Regions from separate parts of the Homo sapiens genome. Here all the other regions are linked to region 2. Evidence: fine-mapped expression QTL. A gene starts in region 2. Each other region holds a variant in brackets. All regions are shown on one strand. Distances are from middle to middle. Region 1 overlaps PPP3CC (protein phosphatase 3 catalytic subunit gamma). Region 2 holds the start of SLC39A14 (solute carrier family 39 member 14). Region 3 overlaps PPP3CC (protein phosphatase 3 catalytic subunit gamma).

Region 1 (11,564 bases), 91 kb after region 2:
GATATATCTTTTCCATGCACAGCATGATGGTGATGTCCAGGCAACCACAGATTGACCACGTAGGTGGCTAAGGGTAGTGACACATTTGCTTTCTAATTCAGTGTACGCAAATTTATTTTGTGCACAAAATTATTAAAAATATTTATAAAATTATCTTCACATTCTGTGTATATGAAACATAAATGAATTTTGTGTTTGGACTTGGGTTCCATTCCCAACACATCTCATTATGTATATGCAAATATTCCCAAATCTGAAACAATCTGAAATTGAAATGCTTCTGGTCCTAAGCACTTTGAATAAGAAGTCATACTTGTCGTCCTAGAATGTTTTATATCTGTGAATGGGCTCTTTGCTTCTGTGCATAATGGTTTTTTTTTTTTTTAACAGTTTTAGAGATAAGGCCTCACTCTGTTGTCTAGGCTGGAGTGCAGTAATGCGATCAATGCTCACTGTGGCCTCAAACAAACTCCTGGCCTCAATTGATCGTCCTGCCTCATCCCTCTGAGTAGCTGGGACTACAGGCGTGTGCTGCCATGTCTGGCTAAATGTTTTATTTTTATTACTTTTTTGTAGTGACAGGGTCTTGCTATGTTGCCCAGCCTGGTCTCAAACTCCTGGCCTCAAGTGTTCCTCCCACCTCCCAGAGAGCTGGGATTACAGGCATGAGCCACTGTGCCTGGCCCTGCGTAGAATCTTGTCCCTCAGCTTGACCAGCTCCTGTTTGTTTTTCAAGATTTAGCCAAGGGGACTTCTGAGAAGCTTTTTCTTCTCTGCTAAGAAGCTGTGGAGAGTAATGGTTTGAGAACATGGGCTTCAGTCAGACATACCTGGATTCAAATTTCTGTTTGTTTTTTTTTTCAAGGAGATGGAGTCTTGCTCTGTTAGCCGGCTGAAGAAGTGCAGTGGCACCATCATAGCTCACTGCAGCCTCAAACTCCTGGGCTCAAGTGATTCTCTTGCCTCATTCTCATGCCTGGCACTACAAGCATGTGCTACTATGCCCAGCTCAAATTCTTTTAGTGATGCATGACCTTAGATAAATCACTTACACTTGTTTTACCTGCATTTCTTTATGTGTAGAAGAGGGATAATGAAACTTGCAGTGGCAAGCACATAGTGAGTACTCCATATATGTTATGGTAGGTGCTGCTGCCGCCATCGCTATCATCATCATCATCATAAGAATTACTGTCTCCTATGAGCTCCCATAAACAATCTCATTGCTTTGCAAATCGCTTTAAATATTTTCTTGTCCTTTCTTCACAATAAACTCCTCTCTTTAAGGGCAACCACTGTATCCTTAATGCTGAATGCAGTGCTTAACACACGCTTAGGTGCTTAGTAAATATTTAAGTATGTGCAAGCATAAGAAGCTTATTTTATGGATGACAGTGTAAGAAAGAGTACAGACTCTGCTGATTACCAGCCGTGTGGCCTTTGAGCTTTGTTATTTATTTTCCTTGCCACAGGTGTAAAATGGGAGATAGTGCCTACCTCAGAATTTAAAGATTACATCTCATATTGTATGTAAAGTGCTTAGCATAATGCCCATAGTGGGTGGTTAATAAATGTTAGCTATTATTTAAAAAATAAATCAATCTTGGATCTTGGCGAGATTTGACAGTAGATCTATTTTACTTTAAGTGACATGTGAAATGAAGATTTAAGAGTACTGTATTTTATATAGTCACGCTTACATAGTTGCTTAATAATTCGGAGTTCTGACAAATGCATCCTTAGGCGATTTCATCATTATGCAAACATTGTATAGTGTACAGTTATCCCTTGGTATATGTGAGAGCTTAGTTCCAGGACCCCCACATATACCAAAATCCCTGAATATTCAAGTCCAGAAGTTGGCCCTGTGGAACCTGAGAATTCAAAAAGTTGGCCCTCTGTATTTGCAGGATGGGGTTTTGCAGCCTGTGTTTGGTTGAAAACATTTGCATATAAGTGAACCAGTGCAGTTCAAACCCATGTTGTTTGAGTTAACCATACTTATACAAACCTAGATGTTATATATATCTACAAACGTAGATGTTACACACCTAGGCTGTATGGTATATAGCCTATTGCTCCTAATCTACAAACCTGTGCAGCATGTTACTCTATTTAATACTGTAGGCAACTGTAACACAACAGTAAGTCTTTGGGTATCTAAACATATCTAAACCTAGAAAAGGTACAGTAAAAGTACAGTATTAAAGATAAAAAATGGTCCACCTGTGGAGGGCACTTAACATGAATAGGGCTTGCAGGACTGGAAATTGCTCTGGGTGAGTCAGGGAGTATGTGGTGAGTGAATGTGAAGGCCTAGGGCATTACTGTAGAACACCGCAGGCTTTACAAACACTGCACACTTAGGCTATGCTAAATTTATAAAATATTTTTCTTCAATAGTAAATTAGCCTTAGCTTACTGTAACTTTTACTTTATAAACTTAAAAATTTTTAAACTTTTTAACTCTTGTACTCATACTTAGCTTAAAACACAAACACATATAGCTGTACATATTTTCTTTCATATCCTTATTCTTATAAGCTTTTACGATTTCAAACATTTCTTATTTTTAAAACTTTTTTGTTAAAAATGAACACACACCACATACATTAGCTGAGGCCTCCAGAGAGTCAGGATGATCAATGTCACTGTCTTCTACCTCCACCTCCTGTCCCACTGGAAGGTCTTCAGGGGAATTAACAGGCATGGAGCAGTCACCTCCTATGACAACAATGCCTTCTCATGGAATACTTCCTGAAGGACCTGTCTGGGGCTGTTTTACAGTTACCTTTTTTTTGTTGTTTTTGTTTTTTGAATAAGTAGAAGGAGTATACTCTAAAGTAATGATTAAAAGGGTGGTATAGTGAATGTATAAGCCAGTAACATATTTGTTATCGTTATATGACTGGCAGTGCAGTAGGTTTGTTTACACCGGCAGTACCACAAATGTGAGTAGTAGTGCCTTATGCCGTGATGTTAAGACAGGTGAAAACATCACTAGGTGATAGAAACTTTTCAGCTCCATTATAATCTTACAGGATCTCTGTCATATATATATAGTCTTGTAGACTGAAATATTGCTATGTGGCACATGACTGTTTTCTAACTTTAGTCTTAGATATTGAAAGGATTTAAGGCTGGGCGCGGTGGCTCACGCCTGTAATCCCAGCACTTTGGGAGGCCGAGGCGGGTGGATCATGAGTTCAGGAGATCGAGACCACGGTGAAACCCCATCTCTACTAAAAATACAAAAAATTAGCCGGGCGCGGTGGTGGACACCTGTAGTCCCAGCTACTCGGGAGGCTAAGGCAGGAGAATGGCATGAACCCGGGAGGCAGAGCTTGCAGTGAGCCGAGATTGCGCCACTGCACTCCAGCCTGGGCGACAGAGTGAGACTCCATCTCAAAAAAAAAAAAAAAAAAAGAAAGAAAGGACTTAAACCTAAAATGCTTAAGAAGAAAAATGATGAAATTTTCCTTTTCTATAGTATAGATAGAATTTTGGAAGTGATGTATTCATAAATATTTGATGAGTTCCTATTACATGGAGCACATTTCTGGTTATGCTTAGAAGGGTTAAATACTACTTGAAAAGTACTCATGCGGTGTAGCATATAATAGCCTCTCAAAAATGTCACAGAAATTTAGAACTATATAGTGACCTATGACTAATCCCACTGCAAAAGGAGCAGGTGACTAAATTGTAGACAATACCTGGTGTGAAATGTTTGTTCCCTTGATCTATAAATTGATAATCCTTTAATGTTTAATCTGACTGTGACTAGTGGCCTGAAGAGGTAAGACTTTTGTGTTTTTTTATGTGTGTGCCTACGTATGTTTTTTTCTTGTGACCTAAGGCTTTGTGGAAGTTTAAAATAGAGTGATTTTAATGAATGGCTGGAGTAATAAAGATAGTTGGTGGGCTTCTCCATGGAAGCAAGTTGGTTATTTTTAACTACTTTGCACTGCTTTATGGAAAACATATGCCACTATAGAAGTTATTGTTTCTGTTGACTGTGACTGGTGGTGGTTATTACTTAGTTGGTTCTAGGAGGGCCAGTTTTTAGCTAATACTTTGAAAGTGAGTTCTGTGACTATTATTACTTAGTTGGTTCTAGGAGGGCCAGTTTTTAGCTAATACTTTGAAAGTGAGTTCTGTGACTATTATTACTTAGTTGGTTCTAGGAGGGCCAGTTTTTAGCTAATACTTTGAAAGTGAGTTCTGTGACTATCAAAGACCAGAGGAATAATCTCAAAGAAGCTGATCAGATCATGGAACTAAAGTCACTTGTTCTGGTGAGGAACAGTTGAAAGGGCACATAATACTTTTGGTAATAATATTTAATGTAACTTATTTAGCAGTGCGTGTTCATGATTGGCAAGGCAGGTGAGTAGATTAGGAAATGAGTCTGAAAAAGTAGGGCAGGACTGCTGGCTTAAAATAGGAGTGAAAGCAGTGAACAGACATAGCTATTTAGGCAAATCCTAGTGTCCCATGAGGATAAGACTACCACAATAATCTAAAAATAATAGCTTATAGGCCAATAACCTTTAAGGTTTATGTTTCATACTCACCGCAGGTCAACCCATGTGGCTGTTTCTCATTTATGCAGATCTACATCAGATTTTACTTGTGTTTACCTGAAAATACATATTGTTTATGTAGTCAATGTATATTGTAGTAGCATACAGAATCTGATCTTGAAAAGGTTGCAGAATTTCTTGAGTGTACTTTAGGAACTTAGTTTTTCAAAATTTATTTAATTTTTATTTTGATAATTATAGATTCACAGGAGGTTGTAAATAAAGAAATGTAAAGGGAGGTCCCAAACACCTCTCCCCTAACTCCCTTCCCTCTCTTTGCCCGTGTCAGTATCCCACACCACCACACACAGTAGTATACCAAAACCAGGAAATTGACATTGGTACAGTCCATAGAGCTTGTTCAGATTTCACCAGTTATACATGCATTCCTGTCTGTGTATGTGTGTTTAGCTTTACACAATTTCACATATAGGTAGCATAACTACCAGCACAATAAGGGTACTCAACAGTACCGTAACCACAAGATTTAGTTA[C/A]TTCCCCTGTATAGCTACACCAGTCCCCCTTCTCCACGGGAAACTCAGTTTTATAGTTTGGCTATTGTTTTTAATCATGTGCAAACCTGGTTTGATTAAGGTTTTTGCTTCTGATTTGGAAGCATTGTTAAATAATTTTTAATGAAATACAGGTAATCTGAAAGCAGCTGACACATGGTAAAAAGCTAGATTTGGGAACACTGAAAGACTTCTTGGATGCATAGGCTTAGAATGATTCTCAGCTGTGATTTATTTCCTCCCTCCCTCCCTCCCTCCCTCCCTCCCTCCCTTCCTCCCTTCCTCCCTTCCTCCCTCCCTTCCTTCCCCTCCCTCCCTCCCTCCCTCCTTCCCTCCCTCCTTCCTTCCCTCCTTCCCCCTCCATCCCTTCCCCTCTCTCAATATTCTGTAATATTGAAATATTTCGTTAAAAATATACAGCATATTACATATATATCTGAAATTTTCTCCTTTCTTCCTTTTAGTATACCTTCTATTTATTTTGGTACCAAGAATAGAGTGCTGCTGTAACAAACACCTAAAAGTGTGGAAGTGGCTTTGGAACTTCTGAAAGACCCAGCCCAAGTCCCATCTTCATTTATTTATTTATTTATTTTTAAGAATTTTTTTTCCAAGGCTGGATCTCGGCTCACTGCAACCTCCGCCTCCTAGGTTCAAGTGATTCTCCTGCCTCAGCCTCTGGAGTAGCTGGGACTACAGGTGCACACCACCATGCCCGACTAATTTTTGTGGTTTTTAGTAGAGATAGGGAGGGTTTCACGATGTTGGCCAGGCTGCTCTTGAACTCCAGGCCTCAAGCGATCCATCTGCTTCATCCTCCCAAAGTTCTGGAATTACAGGCATGAGCCACTGCACCCAGCCCAAGTCTCAACTTTCTCATACACTTAATTGATTTCTGTAGCTATCGTTGATTTCCCCCTTTATAATCTTCCGTACTTACAGTCTGAACCATACAATGTACTGCTTAACTATTCTGTGTTTATATCTTGTTTTATGCGAATTCTACTCAACTAGAGCATATGATTCTTCAAGGTAGAATAAATGTGTTAAACTTGTATATTTCGGCCGGGCGCAGTGGCTTACGCCTGTAATCCCAGCACTTTGGGAGGCCAAGGCGGGCGGATCACCTGAGGTCAGGAGTTCGAGATCAGCCTGGGCAACACGGTGAAACCCCGTCTCTACTAAAAATACAAAATTAGCCAGGCGTGGTGGCACATGCCTGTAATCCCAGCTACTCAGGAGGCTGAGGCAGGAGAACCGCTTGAACCTGGGAGGCAGAGGATGCAGTGAGCCGAGATCGTGCCATTGCACTCCAGCCTGGGCAACAAGAGTAAATCTCCGTCGCACCAAAAAACAAAAAAAACAAAAAAAACACACAAAAACAACTTGTATATTTCACACATTACCCATACAATGTGAGCATGTAGTAGGTACCAGATAAACATTTAGTTATTTAACTAGAATATAATTACTGCTCTAGTATTTTTTCCCTAGCACTTTCAAACGTTACTCAAAGAATCCTTCTAGCTCTTTGATACAAATTTTAGAACTTCACTATTAACAAATATCAGCTGGGCTCGGTGGCTCACGCCTGTAATCCTAGCACTTTGGGAGGCCGAGGCAGGCGGATTGCTTGAGGTCAGGAATTTGAGATCAGCCTGACCAACATGGTGAAACCTTGTCTCTACTAAGAATACAAAAATTAGCTGGCCGTGGTGGTTCTCAACTGTAATCCTAGCTACTTGGGAGGCTGAGACAGGAGAATTGCTTGAACCTGAGAGGCAGAGGTTGCAGTGAGCTGAGATCATGCCACTGCATTCCAGCCTGGGCAACAGAGCGAGACACCGTCTCAAAAAAAATAAAAATAAAAATAAAAATAAATAAATAAAATAAAGTAAAATAAAAATATATATATATCACTACTAGCTAGGATTTTAGGAAGGCTACCTATAGAAACTTAGATATATTTAGTTATGGAATGTTTTGTTTTTCAGTTGGTAATGTACACTCTTTCAGTGTTTCAAAGGAGGATACTGGATAATTCGATTTGAATTGTAAATCTCCCCAACTGGTGTTGGAGAAACCAGAGGAGTTGATGATTTTATACACAGTCTTTCCTACCTCTTATTATTGAGAAAAGAGTGTTAATTGTGGTCAATGAATTTCTTCAAAGTTTGCTGCTTTTAAATCAAATTAAGGAAGTCAGCAACTATAAGTAGAATGATATGAATAAAATGTTTCATTGTTATGAAGAAGTGTTAGTAGCACGTGGCATTATGTGTTTCACATATTGAAGTTGACACCAGAAATATACATTTGTAATTTTTTTTTTTTTTCTGAGACAGAGTCTAGCACTGCTGCCCAGGCTGGAGTATAGTGGTGCAGTCATAGCTCACTGCAGCCTGGAACTCCTGGGCCCAAGTGATCGTTCCGCCTCCACCTACACCTCCCAAGTAGCTGGAATTACAGGCACATGCCACTGTGCCCAGACCATTTTAGTGATTTGTTATTTTTTAAATCTCTATTCTCTTTTTAATACAGAGCTGCAAATTTCTTACTTTTCTTTAGTGCAATCCATGTGTGAAATATGTGTTATAATTTGTAACTAACAATATTTGAAGTCCTGAAGTTTTTGAATGATCTTGTATGTAAGATTAGAGTAGATTCATGGTTCCCACTAATAACCACTTCATTATTATCACTTTGTTATGTGTGTGTGTGTGTGTGTGTTTAAAGAGATAAACTTATAGGTGGTTTATCTAGAATTGTGTAAAATACTTTCATTTTCATGAGAGAGTATCTTGCATGTGAGTATTATTTGTCACATGTTATGCCTACATTGTTGGTTGGACTTAAACTTTAGTGACCTCTCAGAGATTATTTTCATTCTAGTTCATGTCATATTACTTTGATATATGTATTAAGAAGAAGTACAAGAGATTATTTAATGCTATTGTCTGAATGTTTGTGACCCCCCAGAATTTGTATGTTGAAATCCTAATCCCCAATGTAATGGTATTAGGAGGTATGGTCTTGGGGAGGTGAAGTTTTTATAAATTTCTAAAAGAAAGTATAGGAAAAATCTTTGTGACTTTGGGGTAGACTATTTTCTTAGATAGGTCATAGAAGGCATGAACCATAAACGCTGACAATTGGACTTTTGAAAAATTGTTCTTCTAAAGATGTTTAAGAAAATGAAGAGGCAAGCCACAGAATGGGAGAAAATATCTATACTGCATTAGTGGAGTTTACTACTAAATTAAGAAAACATTAGAAGATTGTCTATATAGTATAACTGATTATAAAATAATGTATTTACATATTTAAAATATTAAGATATATACTGACATCTTAACAGTAGTTGTCTTTGGCTGGTGAGATTCTAAGAGTTTTGTTTTTGTGGTGGTTATTGTTTTTTGTTTTGTGCTCTTTTAAAAAATTGTTTTGCCTCAAGTGTATAGTATCTTTGATTTATAAAAATCTTTAAATAAAGATAGGATAGTTTGAAAGATTAGCAGAATGTTTACAATCAATACTTGATACTACATGGATAATACTTTCCTATTCTATTTTTGTAAATTCTGTGCTTGAAAATTTCAAAGAATTTTTTGTGTGTGAGTGTGTGTTTTGAGGTGGAGTCTCGCTATGTTGCCCAGGCTGGTCTCAAACTCCTGTCCTCAAGTGATTTTCCCATCTTGGCCCCCTGTAGCATTGAGATTACAAGCATGAGCCACCATTCCCAGGCCAAAACTTTCGAAACTTTAAAAAATAGCATGAAAACCTTTATTTTAGTCCAGGTGCAATGGCTCACATCTGTAAACCTGGCACTTTGGGAGGCTGAGGTGGGAGAACTGCTTGAAGCCAGGAGTTTGAGACCAGCCTGGGCAACATGATGACACCTGTCTCTACAGAAAATTTAAAAATTAGTCAGGTGTCATGGTGCATATCTGAAGTCCCAGCTACTCTGGAAGCTGAGGTGAGAGGATTGCTTGAGGAGTTCGAGGCTACCGTGAGGCATGATCAAGCAGCTGCACACCATCCAGCCTGAGTGACAGAGTGAGAGACCCTGTGTCTAAAAATGAAAAAAGAAAATCTTTACTTTATTTATTTATTTTTTGAGATAGAGTCTTGCTCAGTTGCCCAGGCTGGAGTGCAGTGGTGTGATCTCGGCTCACTGCAACCTCCACCTCCCAGGTTCAAGTGATTCTCCTGCCTTAGCCTCCCGAGTAGCTGGAACTACAGGTGTCTACCACCATGCCCGGCTAATTTTTGTGTTTTTAATAGAAACAGGATTTCACCATATTGGCCAGGCTGGTCACGAACTCCTGACCTTGTTATCCGCCCACCTTGGCCTCCCAAAGTGCTAGGATTACAGGCGTGAGCCACCGCACCCAGCTGAAAATCTTTACTTTATTTACAGCACTTTGTGAGCCATATTTAGCAAACATAGTTCCACATATGAAGTTTGTTTTTAATGATAAGGGGTTTTTAAACTTGATTTTTAGTATAAATACACAGTATAATAAAAGTTTGTTTACATTAGATATGAAGCTAATTACCACCCCTAACTGCTGGCTGGTTTTCTAGAATTGTAGAAGCAGGTGGTGAATTTTCCTGTCTGCTGATATCCAAAACACTCTGATTCCTGGGTAAGTTCCAGCAGTATTGGATGTTGGTAATATTACTGTTGGTCGATTAATTTATGATAGTATTATATACATCTCTAAAGTCTAATTCTATGTATTTTTTAAGTAAATAGTAGAATAACATGGCATAACATTTTAAAAGGTATGTGGTAAAAAGTCTTCCTATTCCTAACTGTCAGCCACCAGTTTCCTGCCATGGGACTGTTAAATCTCACCACCAAAGACCACCAAGAAAACATCTGTAGTCAAAAATAAGTTACACTGATTTAGCTTGCTGCAGGAAGGAATAACATACATCAGAAGAGCTGTGGGACCTCTCAAAAGGATAGAGTTAGGAAAGAGGACATACAGGATTTTAGGAGCTGTTAGTCACAGAGTAATGTTAGGATAAAGGTAGTAGTCTGGGCAGGGATTGGCTAGAATATGTAATTTGAGTGAGTTGCTGGAACAGCCAGTAGTTTTGCCTCTAGGACACATAAGTCCCTGAGGATTTACTGTTAGATCAGTTTGTGGTACTAGAACATACGGGTATGAGTGAGCTGATATTAATAAAGGTTTGAGGCTGGGCACAGTGGCTCACACCTTTAATCCCAGTGCATTGGGAGTCTAGGATGGGAGGATCGCATGAGGCCAGGAGTTTGAGACTAGCCTGTTTAACTTAGTGAGACCTCAGTCTTTAAAAAAATTTTTTTAAAATTAAAATTAACTGAGTGTGGTGGCACACACCTGTAGTCTTAGGTACTTGGGAGGCTGAGGGGGAGGATCACTTGAACTCAAGAGTTGGAGACTGCAGTGAGCTATGATCATGCCACTGCACCCCAGCCTGGGTGACAGAGGGAGACCCTCTCTCTTAAAAAGAAAAAAAATAAGGTTTGAGCTTAGATGGCCTGTGATGCACAGTACATTGCGGTTTGGTTTGGTTCAGTTTATCTGTTTTGCAAGTACTAAGTGCTTTTCTGTGCATCTGCAAGCAATTTGTAGTGTAATTTCAGTTTTGTTTCACTTTTTAATCTCTGTTTCTGATCATTCGTCCGCTAAACTGGAACATTTACCATTTAGGGGAGGTGATCAATCAAGATTTCAAACTGTCGTTTGATGGGTTGTGAATGTTTATAAAGCTTTGATGGTAGACATTTTGGCCTCTACAGGCACCAGGCCATTTTGTTCTTTTTTTTCTTTTTTCTTTTTTTTTTTTTGAGACGGAGTCTTGCTCTGTTGCCCAGGCTGGAGTGCGGTGGCACGATCTCGGCTCACTGCAAGCTCCGCCTCCTGAGTTCACACCATTCTCCTGCCTCAGCCTCCTGAGTAGCTGGGACTACAGGCACCCGCCACCATGCCAGGCTAATTTTTGTATTTTTAGTAGGGACGGGGTTTCACCATGTTAGCCAGGATGGCCTCGATGTTCTTTTTCTTAGATGATAATTTGTTGAATCAGCTGGTGTGACAGTGGCTGCACAGCAGCATTTAAGACTCTAAAGATCACACACTTGGCATCTGCAACACACTGAAACTCAGACAGTTATTATTAAAGTTTAAAATAATGTCCCATATATCCCATAATCTATTTGGATTTTCCTTTGGGCAACCAAATATATTTTTTTTCCTTTAATTTGGATATGGGTCATTCACCTTTGCAACTGTCCCATATTTGGTTTATATTTTGCCAAGGATAAGCATCTTGATAGTGCTAACAGTAAGGAAAAGTTATCTGTTAGCAGCCTAAAATCTTACAACAGTGGAGAGAGAAGAAAATGCCAAGAGAATAAAGGACAAAATCATGCAAGTCTGTAGTCATCAGTGGCTTCTGGCATCTGGGAGGT
Region 2 (9,676 bases):
AGAATGAGACCTTATCTCAAAAAAAAAAAAGAAAGAAAAAGAATCGTCTAACTGAAGAAACGTACTGGGGATAAAGAAAATATATCTGGCCGGGCGCAGTGGCTCACGCCTGTAATTCCAGCACTTTGGGAGGCCGTGGTGGGCAGATCACCTGAGGTCAGGAGTTCGAGACCAGCCTGACCAACATGGAGAAACCCCGTCTCTACTAAAAATACAAAATTAGCCAGGCGTGGTGGCGCATGCCTGTAATCCCAGCTACTCGGGAGGCTGAGGCAGGAGAATTGCTTGTACCCGGGAGGCGGAGGTTATGGTGAGCCAAGATTGCACCATTGCACTCCAGCCCAGGCAACAAGAGCAAAACTCCATCTCAAAAAAATAAAAGAAAAGCATATCCATTGCTAGATAAACTATAGTGAAACTATAGAACATGAAAGACAGAATCGTGAAAACAAAACAGCCAGATATGATCCAGCAATTCCACTACTGGGTATATACCCAAAGGAATTGAAATCAGTATGCTGGGCGGGGCATGGTGGTTCACACCTGCAATCCCAGCACTTTGGGAGGCCAAGAAGGGTGGATCACTGGAGGCCAGGAGTTCCAAACCAGCTTGGCCAACCTGGTGAAAACCTGTCTCTACTAAAAATACAAAAATTAGCTGGGCGCGGTGTTGCACGCCTGTAATCCCAGCTATTCGGGTGGCTGAGGCATGAGAATCGCTTGAACCCTGGAGGCAGAGGTTGCAATGAGCCGAGATGGTGTCACTGCACTTCAGCCTGGGTGACAGAGCGAGTCTCTGTCTCCAAAAAGAAAGAAATCAGTATGCCAAAGAGATATGTGCACTCACATGTTCATTGCAGCACTGTTCACAATAGCCAAGATATGGAAACAACCTGAGTGCCCATCAACGGATGAATGGATTTTTAAAATGTGGTACATTTACACAATGGATACTATTCAGCTTTAAATCAAAAACAGGACATTCTGTCACTCATGACAACCTGAATGAACTTAGAGAACATTATGTTAAGTGAAATAAGCCAGGCATAGAGAGACAAATACCATATGATCTCACTTGTATGTAGAATCTAAGAAAGTCAAACATAGAAGTAGAGAATAGAAAGGGAGTTGCCAGATACACGGTGGGGGTAGAGGGAGGTTGACAGGGAAAAGGGGAGACATTGGTCAATGGGTATAAAGTTACAGTTAGGAAGAATAAGTTCTAGTGTTCCGTTGCACAGTATGGTGACTATAGTTAATACTGTATATTTTAAAATAGTGAAAAGAATTTTAAATGTTCCCACTACAAAGGAATGATTTTTTTAAAAAAAGGAATAGCCTGACAAAGACAAGGCAAAAAAGAATATGTATATATTATATACATATATATATATTTGAGATGATAGATATGCTAATTACCCAGATCTGATCATTTCACAATGTGTACAGGTATCCAGACATCACATTGTACCCCATAAATATGTACAATTACTATTTGTCAATTAAACAAAACCAACCAGAAGTTGAAGAGATTGCTTACAAAGAAAGTTAGTCAAACCACCAGCACACACTTCCTGAACCACAATAGATGCCTTAAGACAAGAGGAATAGAAATTTTAAAACGCAATCGTAGGCCAGGCGCAGTGGCACATGCCTGTAATCCCAGCACTTTGGGAGGCCAAGGTGGGCAGATCACCTGAGGTCAGGAGTTTGAGACCAGCCTGGCCAACATGGTGAAACCCCGTCTCTACTAAAAATACAAAAATTAGCCAGGCGTGGTGGCGTGCACCTGTAATCCCAGCTATTCAGGAGGCTGAGGCAGAAGAATCACTTGAACCCAGGAGGCAGAGGTCGCAGTGAGCCGAGATTGCACCACTGCACTCCAGCCTGGGTAACACAGCGAGACTCCGTCTCAAGAAAAAAAAAAAGATGCAACTGTAAAGTTAGAATTGTATTCCCAACTAAACACTCATTCACAGGTGAGGGCAAAAATAATATTTTAAAAATAAAGATCAGGACAGAAATTAATGAAGAACAGAAAACCAATAGAGAAAATCAACAAAACAAGTTGGTTCTTTGAAAATATTAGCAAAATGGGCAAACCTTTAACTAGAATGACAGAGAAAAAAGACACAAATTACTAAAATCAGGAATGAAAGAGGGCACATTACTACCAAACTTACAGGGAATAAAGAAAAGATACTGTAAGGGAATACTATGAACAGTTGTTTGCCAAAAAATTAGACAACTTAGCTAAAATGCACAGATTTCTATAGCTTACTAAACAAAGTATTTTTCCCAGTTGTCTTTTTTTGTGTGTCAAAACCATCAGATGACAACAGAAATGAACAATTGAGGCCTCTAAAGCTCTTCTCTTTCAGCTGACAATGTAGGGAGCTAGTACTTGAGCCCTCTGACATGATTTCGGGTTGAATAGAACCTTCACATTCCTTCCAATCCTCTTAAATTTGTTAAGCCATCCCAAAACAGAAAATTCATTTTTTCCCAATAAAGCACCAGAGAAATCTGGTCACTGACCTCCAGACAGACTGTAAGAAAAGTGCGCCTAAGGCCAGCATGGTGGCTCACGCCTATAATCCCAGCCCTTTGGGAGGCCGAGGTGGGTGGATTGCCTGAGGTCAGGAGTTTGAGACCAGCCTGGTCAACATGGCGAAACCCCCTCTCTACTAAAAATACAAAAATTAGCCAGGCGTGGTGGCGTGCCCCTGTATTCACAGCTACTCGGGAGGTTGAAGCAGGAGAATCATTTGAACCCAGGAGGTGGAGGTTGCAGTGAGCCAAGATCATGCCATTGCACTCCAGCCTGGGCAACAAGAGTGAAACTCCATCTCAAAAAAAAGAAAAATGAAAAGCTGGCCTTAAGACCTGGGGTGCAGAGGGATTTTACCTCATCTACGTGGTCAAGTTGCTTACCTTGTCACCACAAACCGCACAGAGGGCTTTCATCTGGAGTCCCCAGCCCACTGTCTGCACAATCAGGGCTAGAATCTCATTTCTCTGGCTTATTTCCCAAGGCTGTTCTAGTCACCTCAGCTACGGGAGATCTGGCTATGTATCTTTTGGCAGGTAGCTATGGTGTCTTGTCAGAAGGAAAACAGTAGCAATGAAAATGTCAGATTTTTGTGCTAAGTTCCCTTAAATATTGCCCAACACCAAACTTTTAGTGAGCCAGCCCGTTCATTCATCCAGCAAATATTTATTGAGACTCTGTTATATGCAAGATGTTACTTTAGGAGATACAGGTATATAGGGAAATCTCGTGTAATCAAGGCAGATTAAGGTCTAATAAGGTTGGAGATTAAAGTGAAATAATTTTAAGGGAAAAAATATAAGTACCATAAACCATATAAAGTTTTAATTCTGTGGATCACAACCTAATAATGGTCATGAAGTCAACTTAGTGGGTTTGTTATCACTTTTTTTTTTTTAAATTGAACTATAACAAAATATCATTGCAATGCATATCTTTATGGATATTTTGTGAAATTTTTGTTTGCCGTATTGTTACTTATATTGGAGTTGCAGTGTTAAATGTTTTTAATGTGGGTTACAGTCAAAAATAGGAAAGGGTAGTTCAAACATGCTTCAGAAAAATCCACAAGCTTGCAGGCGAGAGGTGACTTTGGAGAGTTAGAATTTTGACAAGTGAAAATGGGTAATGAGAGGAAAAAGTGGAGAGCAGAGGCCGGTCGCAGTGGCTCACGCCTGTAATCTCAGCACTTTGGGAGGCCGAGGTGGGCAGATCATTTGAGCTTGGAGTTGGAGATCAGCCTGGCCTACATGGTGAAACCTTGTCTCTAATAAAAATACAAATACTAGCCAGGCAGGGTGGCGGGCTCCTGTAATCCCAGCTACTCAGGAGGCTGTGGCAGGAGAACCACTTGAACCTGGGAGGGGGAGGTTACAGTGAACCGAGATTGCACCACTGCACTCCAGCCTGGGCTACAGAGACTCTGTCTCAAAAAAAAAAAAAAAAAAAAAAGTGGAGAGCAGAGAGAAGTGGGCCTCCAAGCCTGGCACCAGGAATGAGAAACTGAGAACTACCCAGCAACAAGGAAGGATTTAAGAGATGCCTAAAGAATTTTGTGTGTGGGTAGATATGGAGAGTTAAGACCTTTTGTTAATAATTAATTGTATTCCCTAATGGATTACTGATAGCTTATCAGCTCTGCTTGCCTATGTGGACTTTGACAGCTCCACCTTTAGTGTGGTTGAAAACAAGTGAGAACGCCATGATAGGCCCGGTGGTGGGGTGTCTGGTCCTGCCCCCTCTCTGCCGAGCAATCTCCTTGAAGGGTGCCTAGTTCTCCTGTGGACAGTATTGACAACTTGCCTGGAAAAGCCATGGGATTGCTCTCCAGCTTTGGTTTTAAGAGATTTAACACTCCATTAGGATATGTGTTTACGGGCTTCATACCCTTCAGAGCTCTGTGTGTTGGAAGCATACTTATTTCACTTTATCTCTGGGTGGGCTTCTCACTCCTTTTCCAGTGCTTCAACAAAAGGTGTGGCGGGGACTGGCCCCTTTCTCACAGCCCACTGCAGTGGGATGAGAGTCCCAAACGGATGACATAATGTCTGGAAAGCACCGAGTTTAACCAAGAGAGAAATAGGGTTATTACAAAGATGAAGGGGCTCTGAGGGAAATTCTGCAAGAGATATCATTACTTTGAAATCACTTGGAAAATAAATGAGAGGAATATCACCCTGCCCCCATACCCACTGCAGCACTGTAATTACGGGGTGAGGATAATTGAATTTTAGAAACGCCCGGGGCCCAGCTACACTCTTCAAAAGTAATATGAAGAATCTGACCCCCTCTGGCCTGGCGAAGAGCAAGCTCCTGAGTTCTTGCTACCGGCTCCAGCGACTGTCTGCTTTCCTTTTCTCCTTAGCGCCGCCATCACGGGGGTCCTCCCCGCAAGACCTGCAGAGAGTGGGATGTTGCCCCCTTCCCTGCGCAAATTTAGAGACAGCTAGTGCCGTCTGGGGACCAGTCACTGTGCTAGGATCAGCTCGAGTACTAAGCCGCGACAGTTGGGCTAGAAAGCCCTTCCTCCGAGCCCCCCAAGGCCCAGGTGGCAGCGGGTTCAGCTCATAGAGGAAATTGTCCTGATGTCCTGCAGAACAGAACAATGGGAGTGGAAAGGGTGGTTTATTTTCTCAAGAAATCGACTACATTTCCCAGGCCTGATATACATCTCAATGGGACTGTCCCACAGAGGAAGAGTCTCCTCGGAACTTCTTCACCCCCAAATTAACATTTCTCCCAACTTTGGGTTAGTAGGGTTCTTTAGGCGTCTGATCATTGTGGGAAGCGGTGCGGCATCAAGTCTGAAAAGTGAATATAATATGGTTTATTTGGAACTCGACCAGGAAATTTTGGTTCTTTTGGCTGGTGGAAATATGCAGAAGAAACACCATCTAAGGGCGCGTCCCCTTCTGAAGTACCTTTCCGAACTGGGGAGGGAAGAGAAAAGCTTTTTGGGTGAACCAGAAGTGGTAAAATCACATTCAAATAGAGTGGGTAGGACTCTCCTCCAGGGGGTGTGGGGTGGAGGCTAGGCGGTGAGAGCTTCCCGCGCCCAGGGAGCAGGTCTTCACGGGAGGTTTCCGGAGGCAGGAGGAGCCTGCGGGTCCTCGGGAGTCACGGCCGGATGAAGGATGGGAGCGGGCGCCGACCACAGCCAGGGCCGCGAGGCGCAGGAGGGCGCAGGCTGGCCAGGTCCCCAGCCTGCCGGCCCCACGTGGCAGCCCCGGGGCGAGCGGGGCGGGCCGGGGGCGGGTCCGGCCGCTGACGCGCCGGGTATATAGCCGGGCATGCGCGCGGTGCCGGGGCCCGGACGCAGTGAGGGGGGTCGGCGCGCGTGTCTACGCGGACGCACCGGCTAAGCTGCTTCTGCCGCCGCCGGCCGCCTGGGACCTTGCGGTGAGGCTGCGCGGGGCCGAGGCCGCCTCCGAGCGCCAGGTGAGGGCGGGGACGCCAAGGGCCGCGGGATGGGCAGCGGCGGAGGAGCCCCGCACCCCAGGCTGGGGCAGTGGGTGGGGGCGGGGACAGCCCTGCGCCGAGGACCGGGCGCCGCTCCCGGGCACCGGCACACGCCCGGACGGCTGGGTGGAGGCTGCACCTGGCCGTGGTGCCGCGCTGGCGAGGGGAGAGGTCAAGGCGCGGCCTGTCCGCCTGGAGGGTGCGGGATGCTAGAGCCGCAGAAGGGTGCCCAGAGCGTGGGTCGCCGCGCCGAAGGCTGAGCCAGGCTCCCGGATTCCCCGCGCGGACACGGACGCAGAACGCAGACAGTAGGTGGCCAATCCGAGGGGCGGCTCTTGGGGCGGCTCTATGGGGCTCTGGGGTCTGGACTTTGCTTTTCAGGAGCTGCGTCCCCGGGCCCCCGCCGGTCCATCTCCCCTCTGAAGGTACATGTACCCAATCTTCCGGCTGAGCGAATCTCCAACCTGGCTTGCCCACGAGGATGGCTTTCTGGCTATTTTTGGTCCTTAATGACCAAGTTAGGTGGTCGGGTTCAGGCTGCCCCCTCTTGGTGGGTGAGGGCAGTGGGACAAAGTCGCCATCCGAGCAGTTTCATCATCTGATCCTGAGGTCCAGTTGAGCCGGGAAAATTTCGTCAGCTCTGGACTAGGGGTTCACTTTTGAGGATCTGGTGCTTGCCAGGGCCTGGGTTCCAGAGACAGGCTTCTCTAAACAGTTAAAGGGCTCGGCTGTACAGGAGGACTCCGGACACAATTGGGGAGTGGCTAAGTGCTCTCTTGTGGCCCGAATGGAAGCGTGGGGTTAGGAGCAGCTTTGACCTGACCCTTCTTCCTGGAGCAAGCCTGGTTTGGGTTTACGTCTTTAGTGGCTCTCCCCTAGGAGCCCCAGGCCATTGGGACGGCTGTGCTCCTGCTGAGGAGTGGCCTGGGAGTTAGCCCTGGCCTCTGTCCCTGCTCTGCTCTTAACTGGCCCTGTGACCTTGGGAGGGTCAGGTCAGTACCACGGTCAGACTAGATCTCCTTAACCACAGCATATACAATTCCGTAATCCTTCCCTCTTTTATTTTATTTTATTTTATTTTATTTTATTTTATTTTATTTTATTTTATTGTATTTTATTTTATTTGAGACGGAGTCTCACTCTGTTGCCCACGCAAGAGTGCAGTGGCGCGATCTCGGCTCACTGCAACCTCCGCCTCCCGGGTTCAAGCGACTCTCCTGCCTCAGCCTCCCGAGTAGCTGGGACTACAGGCGCGTGCCACCATGCCCGGCTAATTTTTTGTATTTTTAGTAGAGACGGGGTTTCACCGTGTTAGCCAGGATGGTCTCGATCTCCTGACCTCGTGATCCGCCCACCTCAGCCTTCCAGAGTGCTGGGATTACAGGCGTGAGCCACCCTGCCCGGCCTATCCTTACCTCTTAAAACCTAAGTCCTAAATATGGACAAGAACTTGTCCATATACATCCTTGGATGCATATCCCCCGGGACGCAGCTCCTGAAAAGCGAAGTCCAGACCCCAGAGCCCCATGGAGCCACCCCAAGGATATACATCCTTGGTAAAGCAAGAGAAGGGATGTCCAGAATCATAACTTAGCAGCTGGAATTAAAAGCCACATGTTCCTTTTCCTGGTGGAGGCTCAGAGAGGTGAGTTTTCCATTACCTGTGTGGTAGCCAGGAGATAGGCTAGTGGTCCTCTTGCTGGGGTTGGTTTGCAGGTAAGACTAGAGGGCACCAGACAGTGGAAGGGGGTCCTCTGGATACTGTCTCTTCCCAAAGGGCCAGGCCAAAAGCAGGTTCTTGCTTAATTTATCATATTTTACTCATCTGGCCTCTGGGGCCTTGAGGGAGGGCAGTGCTGAGCGGGAGATTCGATCCAGGTGTTGACTGACAGCTGGCCAGCCAGTGCAGAGGCTAGAGGAACTCACTGACCTGAGGACTTGGGGGCTGGAGCAGCTGCATCATTGGCCTTGTATTTTAGGCCAGAGTAAGAATTTTGGGCTCTGGGACTCTTAGCCTGTGGATGTACATTGCCTGGTCTGTGCTGGGCTCTGCAGTGGCCACCATGGCGGGTGCACGCAGAAGGCCTGGCCCCCACCCTTCCAGTGCAAACTCTTGGGGAGAAACAGCATCCACGGGTGAAGAACAAGATAGCAACACAAGAGAAGCCTCCATACTGTGCACAGTTCAGTTCAGAGAGCGGGCATCCTTGAAAGACGGGAATAATTCTGGCCTTTTGAGATAGGTGGGTCTCTGTTCAATTCCTGGCCCCGTCACTCTCCAGCAGTGAGAAATTTCTTAACTTCTGTTCTCACCAGCTTGCAGGATGTCGTGATTTTGCCTGGAACATAGTAGAGGGCTGCTTGTCATCATTCTCATCGTCATAATTTTTGTGGGGTGGAGTGGGTTATTTAGGGGTCCCAGAGGCTGATAGTTGGGTTGGGTTGTAGGAATGGTGTGAGCCCAGGCGTAGGGTTGATTCATCTCTTCCTTGGCAACATGGATGCAATTTCCCTGCCCTTCTGGGAAGGCCGCTTTTCTGTGGCCTGCCAGGGATTGTCCCACAGATCAATTGGGCAATTTTAGGGAAAACAAACTTTTTTCTACCTTTGGTTCTGGGAGCTGCTCTGATTTCTTCAGAGAAGAAATGCTCCTTCTCTGGGCTGATGGTAGCCAGGAAGGAGTAACAATGCCTGTGTGTGCCTGGGTGGTGGGTGTGTGCTTGTGTGTGTGTGTGCACATCTGTGCACATGTGCGTGTGCGTGTGTGTAGGGTATATATCACTCACAGGACTGGTTCTGTTTTTAAACCCTGCTTACCTTCTTCCTCCTTCCTTACCTGCTCACACCCTGCACTATTCCAAGAGGAAACTCAATCCCTGTCCAACATTTGCAGAATCATGGGGTTTACACAGTAGTGTTGTGAATAGATTGTGCGTGCCTGGGAACCAGGACCTCCCTCTCCCCACTATGTCAGGATAATAGCCTGCCTGCACCTGACCTGGCCAAGGTAATGCTGCACCATGTTGCTGAGCCCCACAACCATGGAATGTTGAGCAGGGGACTTTGGTGATCTTGGAGTCCAGCACCTTTATTTTACAGTGAAAGAAACTGGATCCAGGGAGGTGAATTGGTATTCCCGAGTCACATGGTTGCCAGTGGCCAAGAGACTTGATGGAGAAGACCAAAGAAGGGTTCTATTTTTGATCCTAAATGTGATTATGAAATTGCTGACACCTCCAGTCTTTGCTTGGAAACTAGAAGAGGAAGGGGCCATTTGTCCCTGTGCTTATTGAGGGAGGGGGTGTTAGTTTCTTCTGGAGGAGTCTCTTACTCTTTCCAGACTCCCTGGAGACATGGGAGGCTGGGGAGTGAGCAGGGAAGGGACCTGCTGCTCAGCCCAGCCGGGACTCACCGGGTGTCTGCAGTGGGGCTTCTCTGACCTCCAGGCTGGTGGGCTGGTGGAATGCCAGGAGATAAGGAGTCCAGAGTCCGCCCCATCGACTGTCGCCAGCCAGGGCTTCATGCCCACCTAGGGGACAGGAGGGCAGGCCCTAGAACACAGGGTCACGAAGCCCCACTATCTTGTTCCCCCCTCCCCCCACTACCGTGGGCATTAAACCTCTCAGGGGGCCCCTGGTTGGGCCTGGCAGAGGCAGAGACGCAGAG
Region 3 (11,564 bases), 150 kb after region 2:
AAGCCTTTTGCTCTCCTGATTTTTTTCTTTTGGCTTTTGTGTGTCTTCTAGTTAGACAGGTTTACGGAACCTCCCGCCTTTGGACCTGTGTGTGACCTGCTTTGGTCTGATCCCTCAGAGGATTATGGCAATGAGAAGACCTTGGAGCACTATACCCACAACACTGTCCGAGGGTGCTCTTATTTCTACAGGTAAGCTAGTCCTTGAGGTCGAAAATTATGAAAGGAAACTGTAATTCATTTTATCAGATGATTTTTCAGCATTTTATATTTCAAATCTATGTAGTATAAGCACTCCTGTTTAATTTTTCGATTAATAGGAGGCAAGAAACTTGTTTGTTTGTTGGCTTTTTATATTTTCTTAGGTATATATCCTAAGAAGTGTAATACACCAAACATGATTGGACATCCTGCAGTGCTCTGATATTTTTGTCTGACTCTAAGTGATCTAGACTATTTGTTCCTAAACATTATCTATACACTTTTTTAAAAAAAATTAAAGCTTTCTTGGCTCTTTCCCCAGAGATTCTAATACACTAGGTCTGAGAGGAATCCTATTGTATTTTCAAAAGCTCTCCAAATTTTGTAACCACTAGTATAGACTAAGATATAAAAAGAACAGGACATTGTGAACTAAGCCCAGTACATTTCCTGGAAGTTGGCTGTTGTTTTAAATTTCACAGGAGCTTTCATTATGATTAGACACTCAAAAATAGGAAGACAGGCAGGGCGTGGTGGCTCACGCCTATAATCCCAGCTCTTTGGGGTGCCTAGGCGGGCGGATCACTTAAGGCCAGGAGTTCGAGACCAGCCTGGCCAACATGGCAAAACCCCATCTCTGCTAAAAATAAAAAAATTAGCCAGATGTGGTGGCAACACGCCTGTAATCCCAGCTAATTGGGAGACTTCAGGCAAGAGAATCACTTGAACCTGGGAGGTGTAGGTTGCAGTGAGCCAAGATTGTGCCACTACACACCAACCTGTGCAACAGAGCAAGACTCTGTCTCCAAAAAAAAAAAAAAAAAAAAAAAGGAAGACATAAGAGAAGTTGGAAATCTAAATTATTTTTAATCCCAGTATTTTATTGTGGCAAATAATACATATGTTTATTTCCCTAAAAATCTCTGTTAATTGGCTAAGATAATGTGTTCATTAGAATACACACATGCACACACACATGAAACTTTGATTTCGCCATTACTTTTAGCATTCTTCTAAACAACCTTTTTTTCTTTAAAAAAATATTTTTTAAAATTTTTGTGGGTACATAGTAGGTATATATATTTATGGGTTATATGAGATATTTTGATATAGTCATACAATGTATAATAATCACATCAAGGTAAATGAGTTATCCATCACCTCAAGCATTTATCCTTTGTGTTACAAACAATCCAATTATTACTCTTTTATTTATTTTATTTTTTGTTGTTTTTTTTTTCACCTTTTTTTTTTTTTTTCCTTTTTTGAGACGGAGTCTTGCTCGGTCACCCAGGCTGGTGTGATCTCAGCTCACCGCATCCTCCACTTCCCAGGTTCAAGCAATTCTCCTGCCTCAGCCTCCTGAGTACTGGGATTACAGGCACCTACCACCATGCCTGGCTAATTTTTGTGTTTTTTAGAGATGGGGTTTCACCATGTTGGCCAGGCTAGTTTGGAACTCCTAACCTCAAGTGATCCACCCACCTCAGCCTCCCAAAGTGCTGGGATTACAGGCATGAGCCACTGTGGCCGGCCTCTTCTAGTTATTTTAAAATTTACAATTAAATTATTATTCACTATAGTCACCCTGTTGTTTAAATCTCACAGTATCAAATACTAGGTCTTATTCATTCTTTCTGACTGTTTTTTTCGACCCATTAACTATCCCATTTCCCCTCTTACTACCCTTCCCAGCCTCTGGTAACCATCATTCTACTCTCATCTCCATGAGTTCAGTTGTTTTAATTTTTAGCTCCTACAAATAAGTGAGAACGTGTGAAGTTTGTCTTCCTGTGCCTGGCTTATTTCAGTTAACATAATGACCTCCAGTTCCATTCATGTTGTTGCAAATGACAGGATCTCATTCTTTTCAATGGCTGAATAATATTCCACTGTGTATATGTACCACATTTTCTTTGTCCTTTCATCTGTTAATAGACACTTAGGTTGCTTCCAAATCTTGGCTATTGTGAACAGTGCTGCAATAAACATGAAAGTGCAGATGTCTCTTCAATATACTGATTTCCTTTCTTTTATATACATACATAGTAGTGAGATTGCTGAATTACATGGTAGTTCTGTTTTTAGTTTTTTTGAGGAACTCCAAACTGTTCTCCATAGTAGTGTACTAAACATTCCCACCAATAGGATATGAGGGTTCCCTTTTCTCGACATCCTCACCAGCATTTGTCATTGCCTGTCTTTTGGATAAAAGTCATTTTAACTGGGTGAGATGATATCTCATTGAAGTTTTGATTTGCATTTCTCTGATGATCGGTGATATTGAATACCTTTTCATATACCTGTTTGCCATTTTATGTCTCCTTTTAAGAAATGTCTATTCAGATATTTTGCTCATTTTTAAATTGGATTATTGGATTTTTCCTATTGAATTGTTTGAGCTCCTTACATATTCTGGTTATTAATCTCTTGTCAGATGGATAGTAAAAAGTCTTTTTTTCTTTCTTCTTCTTTATTTTATTTTATTTTATTTTATTTTATTTTATTTTATTTTGAGACAAGGTCTCTCTTTGTTACCCGGGCTGGAGTGCAGTGGCACCATAACAGCTCACTACAGCCTCAACCTTCTGGACTCAAGCAGTCCTCTTGCCTCAGCCTCCTGAGTAGCTGGAACTATGGGCATGTGCCACCATGCCCAGCTGCTTTTTTTATTTTCTGTAGAAACAAGGTCTTGGCTGTTTTGCCCAGGCTGGTCTTGAAGTCCTAGACTCAAGTGACCCTCCCTACTTGGCCTCCCAAAGTGCTGGGATTACAGGGATGAGCCCCACCCAGCCAACAACCATTTTTCATTCCTCCATGCCAACTTTTCCAGTGACTAATGTGATGAAATCATTTAACTTTTATTTCTTTTTACATTGCTTAAAATAAAGAGCATAATACATATTCATTGTTGTCAGAATAGAAATTGGTACAATTTCTGTGGACATCAACTTGGCAATATCTTTCAAAGGTATTTGTACATGGCCTTTGATCCAGAAATTCTACTTCTAAAACTTAATCCTGTAGATATATAATTGATTCTCATTACTTGTGGATTTCATATTTGTGAATTCCCCCACTTACTAAGATGTATTTGTAACACCCAAATCAGTACTTACAGAGGTTTCATAATCATTCATGGGAATGTAGTGTGCAATGCAACAAAAAATTTGAGTCACCTCACTCACATGTTCCTAGCTGAGGTTGAACAAAATGATGCCCTACCTTCTTTTTGCAGCCCTCATGTTGTAAACAGGCATTCTTTTGAGTTTTATTTAGTGAAAGATGTTTTATGTTTTTGTGCTTTTCATGAGTGATTTCACTGTTTAGAATGGCCACCAAGTGTAGTGCTGAAGTGCTGCTGTCTAGGGTCCCTAAGCACAAAAAGGCTGTGGTATGTCTTACAGAGAAAATATGCGAGTGTTAGATATAAGCTTTGTTTAGGCATGAGTTATGGTGGTTTTGGCCATGAGTTCAATGTTAATGAATCAACAGTGTAAATGACCTAAAGTATTATTACACAGAAACACATCTGAAACAAGGTTATATATTAATTGGTGGGTGAAAATGTTATGACCGGAGCCTCACAGGAACTTCACCCTGTATTTCCCTTAGCAGTAGTGTTTCATTATTTGCTAATTCTGTTTTTGCAGCAACATTATAGAATGTAGCTACTGGGAATAATGAGATAAAAAATTTGACTCACCCAGCACACATGTTCCCAGCTGAGGCTGAACAAAGTGATACTCTGCCTTCTTTTATCCCAGGGATAAATCCCATTTAGCCACAGTATATAATACTTTTAGTATGTTGTTGAGTTTGGCTTTCTAGTGTTTTATGGAGGATTTAAAAATCTATGTTCATCAGAGATACTCACCTGTACTTTTCTTTCTTCTGGTGTCTTTGGCTTTGGTATCAGAGTGATGCTGGCCTCATAATGTGAGTTTGGAAGAATTCTCTCTTCTATTTTTTGGAAGGTTTAAGAAAGATTGGTATTAATTCTTTTTTTTAATGATTAATAGAATTCACCCATGAAACCATCTGGTCCTGTGCTTTTCTTTGTTGAGAGCTGTTTGATTACTGATTCCATCTCCATATTTGCTATTGGTCTGTTTGGGCTTTCTATTTCTTCATGATTCAGTTTTGGCAGGTTGTATATTTCCAGACTCTATCCATTTCTTCTGGGTTTTCCAGTGTTTTGGTGTGTGATTATTCGTAATAGTCCGTTATGATCCCTTTTATTTCTGAGGCATCTATTGTAATGTCTCCTCTTTCATTTTTTGTTTTATTTATTTGAGTATCTCTTTTTTTCTTAGTCTTGCTAAGGGTTTGTCAATTTTGTTTAGTTTTTCAAAAACCAACTCTTAGTTTTGTTGACTTTTTTCTGTTGTTTTTCTATTCTCTATTTGATTCATTTCTGCCCTAAACTTTCCTTTCTTCTGCTTACTTTGGGCTTATTTGATTCTCCTTTTTCTAGTTTCTTGAAGTGTAAAATAAGGTTGTTTAATTCAGATCTTTTTTGTTTTTTAAATCGGCATTTATTACTATAAACTTTCCTGTAGGTACTGCTTTTGCTGCATCCCATACATTTTGATATGTATATTTTTGTTTTCATTTATCTTGAGGTTTTTTTTTTTTTAGATAGGATGTTTTGCTCTGTCACCCAGGCTCAATGCAGTGGCACAATGATACCTCACTGCAACCTTGAACTCCTGGGCTCAAGCAGTCCTCCTGCCTCAGCCTCCTGAGTAGCTGGGACTACAGGATGTACCGCCATGCCCAGCTAATTGTTTTTAAAATTTTTAGAGGAGATGAGGTCTTGCTGTGTTGCTTAGGCTGGTCTCGAACTCCTGACCTATCTAGAGATAATTTTAAAATTCCTTTTTGATTTCCTCTTTGACACAATAGTTGTTCAAAAGTGTGGTGTGTAGTTTCTATGTATTTGTGAATTTTCCTGTTTTCTTAAGTTATTGATTTCTAGTTTCATTCCATTATGGTGGGAAAAGATACTTAGGACGATTTACATCTTCTTAAGTTTGTTGATACTTCTTTGTGATTATATAGCCTAAAGAATATTCTGTGTACACTTGGGAAGAATTCTATTCTTCTGTTATTTGGCAAAAAGTTTTGTATATGCGTATTAGGTCCATTGGGTTCATAGTGTTGTTCAGTTCTGTTGTTTGCTTATTGATTTCTGACTGGATGATTTATCCATTACAGAGAATGATGTATTGAAGTTACTTGCTATTATTATTATTATTTTGAGATGGAGTCTCGCTCTGTCGCCCAGGCTGGAGTATAGTGGCGCGACCTCGGCTCACTGCAACCTCCGCTTCCTGGGTTCAAGCAATTCTCCTGCCTCAGCCTCCCAAGTAGCTGGGATTACAGGCATGCACCATCACGCCCAGCTAATTTTTGTATTTTTAGTAGAGACGGAGTTTCACCATGTTGGCCAGGCTGGTTTCGAACTCCTGACCTCAGGTGATCCACCCACCTCAGCCTCCCAAAGTGCTGGGATTACAGGTGTGAGCCACTGTGCCCGTCCTACTTGCTATTATTTTATTACTGTCAATGTTTGCCTTCAGATCTGTTGTTGCTTTATATATTTAGGTGCTTTGATGTTGGGCACATATATATTTATAATTGTTACATCTTTCTGTTGTATTGACCCTTTTATCATTATATAATGACTTTTGTTCCCTCTTGTGATGATTTCTGACTTAAAGTTTATTTTGTCTGATAAAAGTTTAGCCACTCATGTTCTCTTCCGGTTACTTACTTGCATGGAATACCTTTCTCTACCCTTTTACTTTCAGCTTATGTGTGTCTTTAAATCTAAAGTGAGTCTTTTGTAGACAGCATGTAGTTGGGTCTTGTTTTCATCCATTCACTCATACTATATCTTTTGATTTGAGAGTTAAAGTAATGATTGATAGGTAAGGACTTACTATTACCATTTTGTTGGTTGCTTTCTGTTTTGTGGTTCTACTATTCCTCTCTTTTTCTCTTTGTGATTTGATTTTTATTTTTGTAGTGGGGTATTTTGGTTCTTTTTATCTTTTGTGTATCTACTGTGCTTTTTTGTTCATCGGGTTTGCATCAAACATTTTATAGTTATAGCACTCTGTCTTACGCTGAGAAGAAATTACTTTCAATGACGTATAGAAACTCTACACTTTAGTCCCCATTCACACACCTAATGTAATTAATTTCAGGTTTTACTTTATTTTTGAGACAGGGTCTTGCTCTGTCACCTAGGCTGGAGTGCAGTGGTGCGATCTTGGCTCACTGCAGCCTCTGCCTCCCGGGTTCAAGTGATTCTCCTACCTCAGCCTCCTGAGTAGCTGGGACTACAGGCACACACCACCACACCTGGCTAATTTTTTATATTTTTAGTAGAGATGGGGTTTCACCATGTTGGCCAGGCTGGTCTCTAACTCCTGGCCTCAAGTGATCTGCCTTCCTCAGCTTCCCAGAGTGCTGGGATTACAGGCAC[G/A]AGCCACTGTGGCCAGCTGCATCTTTTAGTTTCTACTTGAACTTCCTTTAGTTGCTCTCATAAGGCTGGTGTAGTCATGACAAACTCCAGTTTTTGTTTGTCTGGAAAAGTCTTTATCTCTCCTTCATTCTTAAAGGGCAATTTTGATGAGTAAAGTATTCCTGGTTGGCAGGTTTTTTTTTCTTTCTTTTAGTACTTTGAATATATTATCTCCCGCTTTCCTGGCCTGCAAGGTTTCAGCTGAGAAATTCACTGATAGTCTTATAGAAGCTTCCTTGTATATTATATGACAAGTAGGTTTTCTCTTGCTGCTTTCAGATTTTTTCTTTTTGAGTTTTAACAACTTAATTATAATGAGTCTTGGTGTTTAACTTATTTGGAGACCTTTGGGCTTCATGAATTGAAATGTCCCTTTTCCTCCCTAGATTTGTTAAACTGTTAGCCTTTAGTTTTTAAAAATAAGAAGCTTTCTGCCCCTTTTTCTTCTCCTTAACTCCCATATGCCTGTATTATTTTCACTTGATGTTGTCCCATAAGTCCTGTATACTTTCCACATTCTTTTTTATTCTTTTTTCTTTTTGTCCCTCTAATGCTATCATTTCAAATGACCTGTCTTTTAAGTTTCCCAGTTCTTTTCTTCTGCCTGAGTCTGCTGTTGAAGCTGTCTCTTGAGCTTTTCAGTTGAGTCATTGTATTCTTCAGCTCCAGGATTTCTATTTGCTTCTTTTTTATGGTTTCTGTTTCTTTATTAAACATCTCTCTTTATTCATTTATTTGCTTTCCTGATTTTGTTTAGTTGTAGTTCATTGAGCTTCTTTAAGATGATTATTTTGGATTCTTTGTCATGCAATTCATACATCTCTATTTATTTAGGGCCAGTTACTAGAGGTTTATTAGTTTCCTTTGGTGGTGTCATTTTTGCCTGGTTCTTTATAATTCATATAGCCTTGCAATGGAGTCTATGCATTTGAAGGAGCAGGGGCCTTCCAGTTTTTATGGACTCGTTCGCCAAGTAAATACCTTCTCCTATTGAGTCCCTGGGTTGATGGGATTGCCTGTGGTATTGTGATTAAGCAGGGCTGAAGCTAGATTATGGGGCTACATTAGGGTTCACAGTCAGTGGGCGTACCACTAGGGGCATGGACAAGTATGTCCCATGGATGGGGAGAGCTGTCTCTGGAACTCAATAGGGTGGGACCCAAGCTGGGTCCCAGGCTGGTTTGGGTTTATGTTTGGGTCCAATCAGCAGCCCTTTTACCAGAGGAATGGACAGGCATGATTTCCACAAGGCCCCTGTTAAGGCAGGACTTCCTCTTGGCCACAGTAGAGCAGGGCTGGAGCCAGGTCAGAGTGCTGCTTTGAGTCTGCAGTTGGGTCTGGTTGGTGGATCTGTTACTAGGGGCATCAACAGACATGGTTCCTTCCCAGGATGGATGAGGCTGGTGGTAGGACTGCAGACAAGTGGGACTGGAGCCGGGTTTACAAGGGACAGGCTGATTCTGGGTCTGTAGCTGAAAGGTCAGTGGGCCTGCCTTCTCCAAGCAGCCCTTCCTAGTCTTGGGCTCCACCAAGGTTTCATAACCACCTACCTCAATCCTAAGGTTCTTACAATGGCACTTATGGCCATGGATGGCTTCCAAACTATTGTTTCTGTAGGAGGACCAGGGCTGGGGACATTCTCTTTTGCTATCTTGCTTACGTCACCTACAACCTACTTTAAAAGTAAATTTGTTCTAATGAGCATAATGAGAAACAAAGATTTTAAAAATAAACTAAATAATTAATGCCTAAGTAATTCCAGGTTAATTTTGTATACTCCAGTTCTTCCTATCAGGTATTTGTCATTCAGAGAGGTAATAGTATGAAAAGAATATTTTAGGAGTATATGAGAATATTGTATCTTTTTTTAGAATATGGTTGGCTAAAATATTTACATCTGCTCCTAAAATATTCCTGCATAAGCTTGCAGTGAGCCGAGATTGCACCACTGCACTCCAGCCTGGGCGACAGAGCAAGACTCCGTCTCAAAAAAAAAAACAAACCTATATATATACATATATATGTATATATGTATTCCTGCATAATATTATCTTGGTGTTTATATTACCTGTGAAGCTGTAAGTATATTCTTTTATTTCTGTAACAATTTGACAATTGAAGAAAAGTATGTGTTGAATTTTTAGCATCTACTACACACACACGCACACACACACACACACACACACTACTGTTGTACTTTGTAATATCAAGACACTGATAAAAGTTTTGGTGTTGTATTGTTATGGATTAAGACAAAAAAATTAAAAGATGAGATGGAGGAGCTCTTTCTATTGTAGGATTATCTATTGTTTTCATGTTTGATCTGTAGTGAAGTATATTAGTGAAATAGAGAAACAGAATGATGAGTACTAAGCTATTCATAAAATTTCAGTAGTGTGTAATACTTGTAGTTTTGAAACAAAATCAGCTAATATCACCTTGACTTTTCCCCATCTTCCTATTAAAAAAAATTGTTTTAATTCTGGATTTATGTTTTCTAATTTTCTTTTCCAGTTACCCTGCAGTTTGTGAATTTTTGCAGAACAATAATTTACTATCAATTATCAGAGCCCATGAAGCCCAAGATGCTGGGTAAGTTACATTAAAATTGTACCAAATATCGCTGCAGAGTCTTTGCATTTAATATGCAGACAGATGGACTTTCATCTCTTTTTCAGGTATCGAATGTACAGGAAGAGCCAAGCCACAGGCTTTCCATCACTTATTACAATTTTCTCTGCCCCCAATTACCTAGATGTCTATAACAATAAAGGTAAAGGAATCCAGCAATATTTGAGTTTGAATTTATGAGTAAACGTGAGCTCTGGTTTAATTGTATGTACGTATGTGTGTTTGTGTCATTTTAAAACATAAATTTTAAATAAGAAAAAAAGGGGTCTTAGTTGAAACAAAGGCCAAGAAATTTAGAATTTATGCTGCTGCTTGGTCTTTATCTCCTAAGGATTACTGGCTTCTTTGTGAGTATAAATAATGATCATAATAGGTCAGATTGATACTACAGAATCAAAGTATAAGAAGAATAAATTGCTTCAGGCTCATGCCAGAATAGTTAGCATAAATTATTGGTTTTGGTGAATTTAATGTGTTTATAACAGTATCTCAAAGTCACCATTGGTATTTTAATCTTTGTGAATTATTAAACTATTTTTGTTTTTCTTGAGATATGGTCTAGGTAGAGTGACCTAGTGTACAAAGTCAAAAAAAAACCTTCATTTTTAGTTTAAACCCTGCCAGAAACGAATACTGTGACTTTGAGTGAGTCACATTATCTTTCTAATCTTCAGTTTCCCATATGAAAAAAGAAGAATGGATATATACATGCCTTTTGTTCCAGAAATTTTACTTCTAAGACTTTATCCTGTTAAAGTCTTTTTTTTAATTTAAAACTTTTATGATTAATAGTTTATAAGTTTTCTATCGAGGCAGTGGTCCTACTAAAAACTTCATATTTCTGTAACTATTTTGTTGTTTATAAAGTATGACTATAAATTAATAGGACTTTGAAAATAAACATGCCAGAACAAACATATCCAAATGAGTATTGTCCCTTCAAAGTAGTTACCTTGGGAGGCTACACACCTATTCCAACAATGCTGTCCTTGTTCAAAAACATTTTTGGAACTCCTCTTTTGGCATTGCCTTCAGAGTCTGCGACACATTCTTTTGATTATCCTCAATGATGGGAAATCTTCGTCCTTTGAGGGTGGATTTGATTTTTGGACAGCCAAAAGTCATTCGGAGTCAAGACTGATAAATAAGGTGAGTGATCAAGCTAGATGATACCATTTGGGGTCAGAAACAAGGTATGATTATAAGGTAATGAGACTGGTTTTTCTCGTGTTGCTGATACAGTGGCTCTGGAGGCACTTCCAAAAGAGGAGTTCCAAAAACGTTTTGAGTAATGGCAGCATCTCTGGATTAATTATATGGTAAGGCAACAAGTTGTGCTGAAAAGAACACAAAGCAAGGAGTCAGTCTAGTCCTGCTTCACTTTTAAGTGTGTCACATTTAACAAGATACTTCTCTGAGCCTCATCTTTAAAATATCTGTCATATGGGGTTGTTGAAGATAAGTTGGAATAAGGAAAATGGATATTAAAGTGTTGTTCAAAATATAAATTACTATAATAATACAGATTTTACTGTTATTGTACCTGATGTGATAATATCAAAGGACCACACTCATCTGATAAAAAGGTCTGGTGTGTTTGTAGCTGGTGGTTTCTTAAGTCTCATTACTTTATAGTTATACCTTGTATATGCAGTTGGGGAGATAAGTTTCAAAGATGGCCAAAATATAATTAATATTTACTCTATTTAAAAGTAAACCATGGAATGGCACATCTCATTTAAATCCGATTTGGGTCAGTCATTTTAGTGTGTCCTCCAGTGACTTGTCTATTTTAAAAAGCATGTCTTTAACTTAAGTTCTGTCCTAGTCTTATGTTTTCATTTAACTTAGCATTCTTCTCTGAGCCTTATCTGTCCTACAATGCTCTGCTTCTCCCTAAGTTCATTTGTTATTTCCTTTTTCCTGATATTTCCAGTATATTAGCAACTTAGGTTTTATTCTTATTTATTCTCTTATCAATGGTGTGGACTGTTTGTGTTGTTAAACGTCTTCAAGGACTCTTGTGGCCCTAGATCTCCTATTTGTAATGAAGGTGTTTCTTTCTCACTTTCTTTTTTAACTTCATCAAAAAGAGTATCTATTGATTGCTCAATGGATTTATCAGTGTGCCAAGCTGAAACACGCCACCTAAGTCAGCAGGCACTATACAGCTCACTCACTGCTAGCTTGTTTTTTGT

What was found. PIP is the estimated chance that this variant, and not a neighbour inherited with it, causes the effect.
Region 1: its variant is fine-mapped to the expression of SLC39A14 in whole blood (TOPMed, PIP above 0.99).
Region 3: its variant is fine-mapped to the expression of SLC39A14 in T cells (TOPMed, PIP 0.97).

What each region holds. Positions count from the first base shown.
Region 1 is chr8:22,451,649-22,463,212 of GRCh38, forward strand. The region is part of intron 1 of PPP3CC (protein phosphatase 3 catalytic subunit gamma); the gene reads left to right. Among named protein-coding and RNA genes, the nearest start is that of PPP3CC, 16 kb to the left of the region's middle. The variant C/A (reference allele first, on the strand shown) is at 5,081.
Region 2 is chr8:22,361,420-22,371,095 of GRCh38, forward strand. SLC39A14 (solute carrier family 39 member 14) reads left to right here and starts at 5,859. Exons shown (of 9, transcript NM_001128431.4): 1 at 5,859-5,989. RefSeq lists enhancers at 4,458-4,958, 6,494-6,743 and silencers at 5,504-6,173, 7,099-7,277.
Region 3 is chr8:22,513,242-22,524,805 of GRCh38, forward strand. PPP3CC (protein phosphatase 3 catalytic subunit gamma) reads left to right here. Exons shown (of 14, transcript NM_005605.5): 6 at 52-191; 7 at 9,250-9,327; 8 at 9,414-9,508. The region is part of intron 1 of LOC124901905 (a long non-coding RNA gene); the gene reads right to left. Among named protein-coding and RNA genes, the nearest start is that of SORBS3, 33 kb to the right of the region's middle. The variant G/A (reference allele first, on the strand shown) is at 6,697.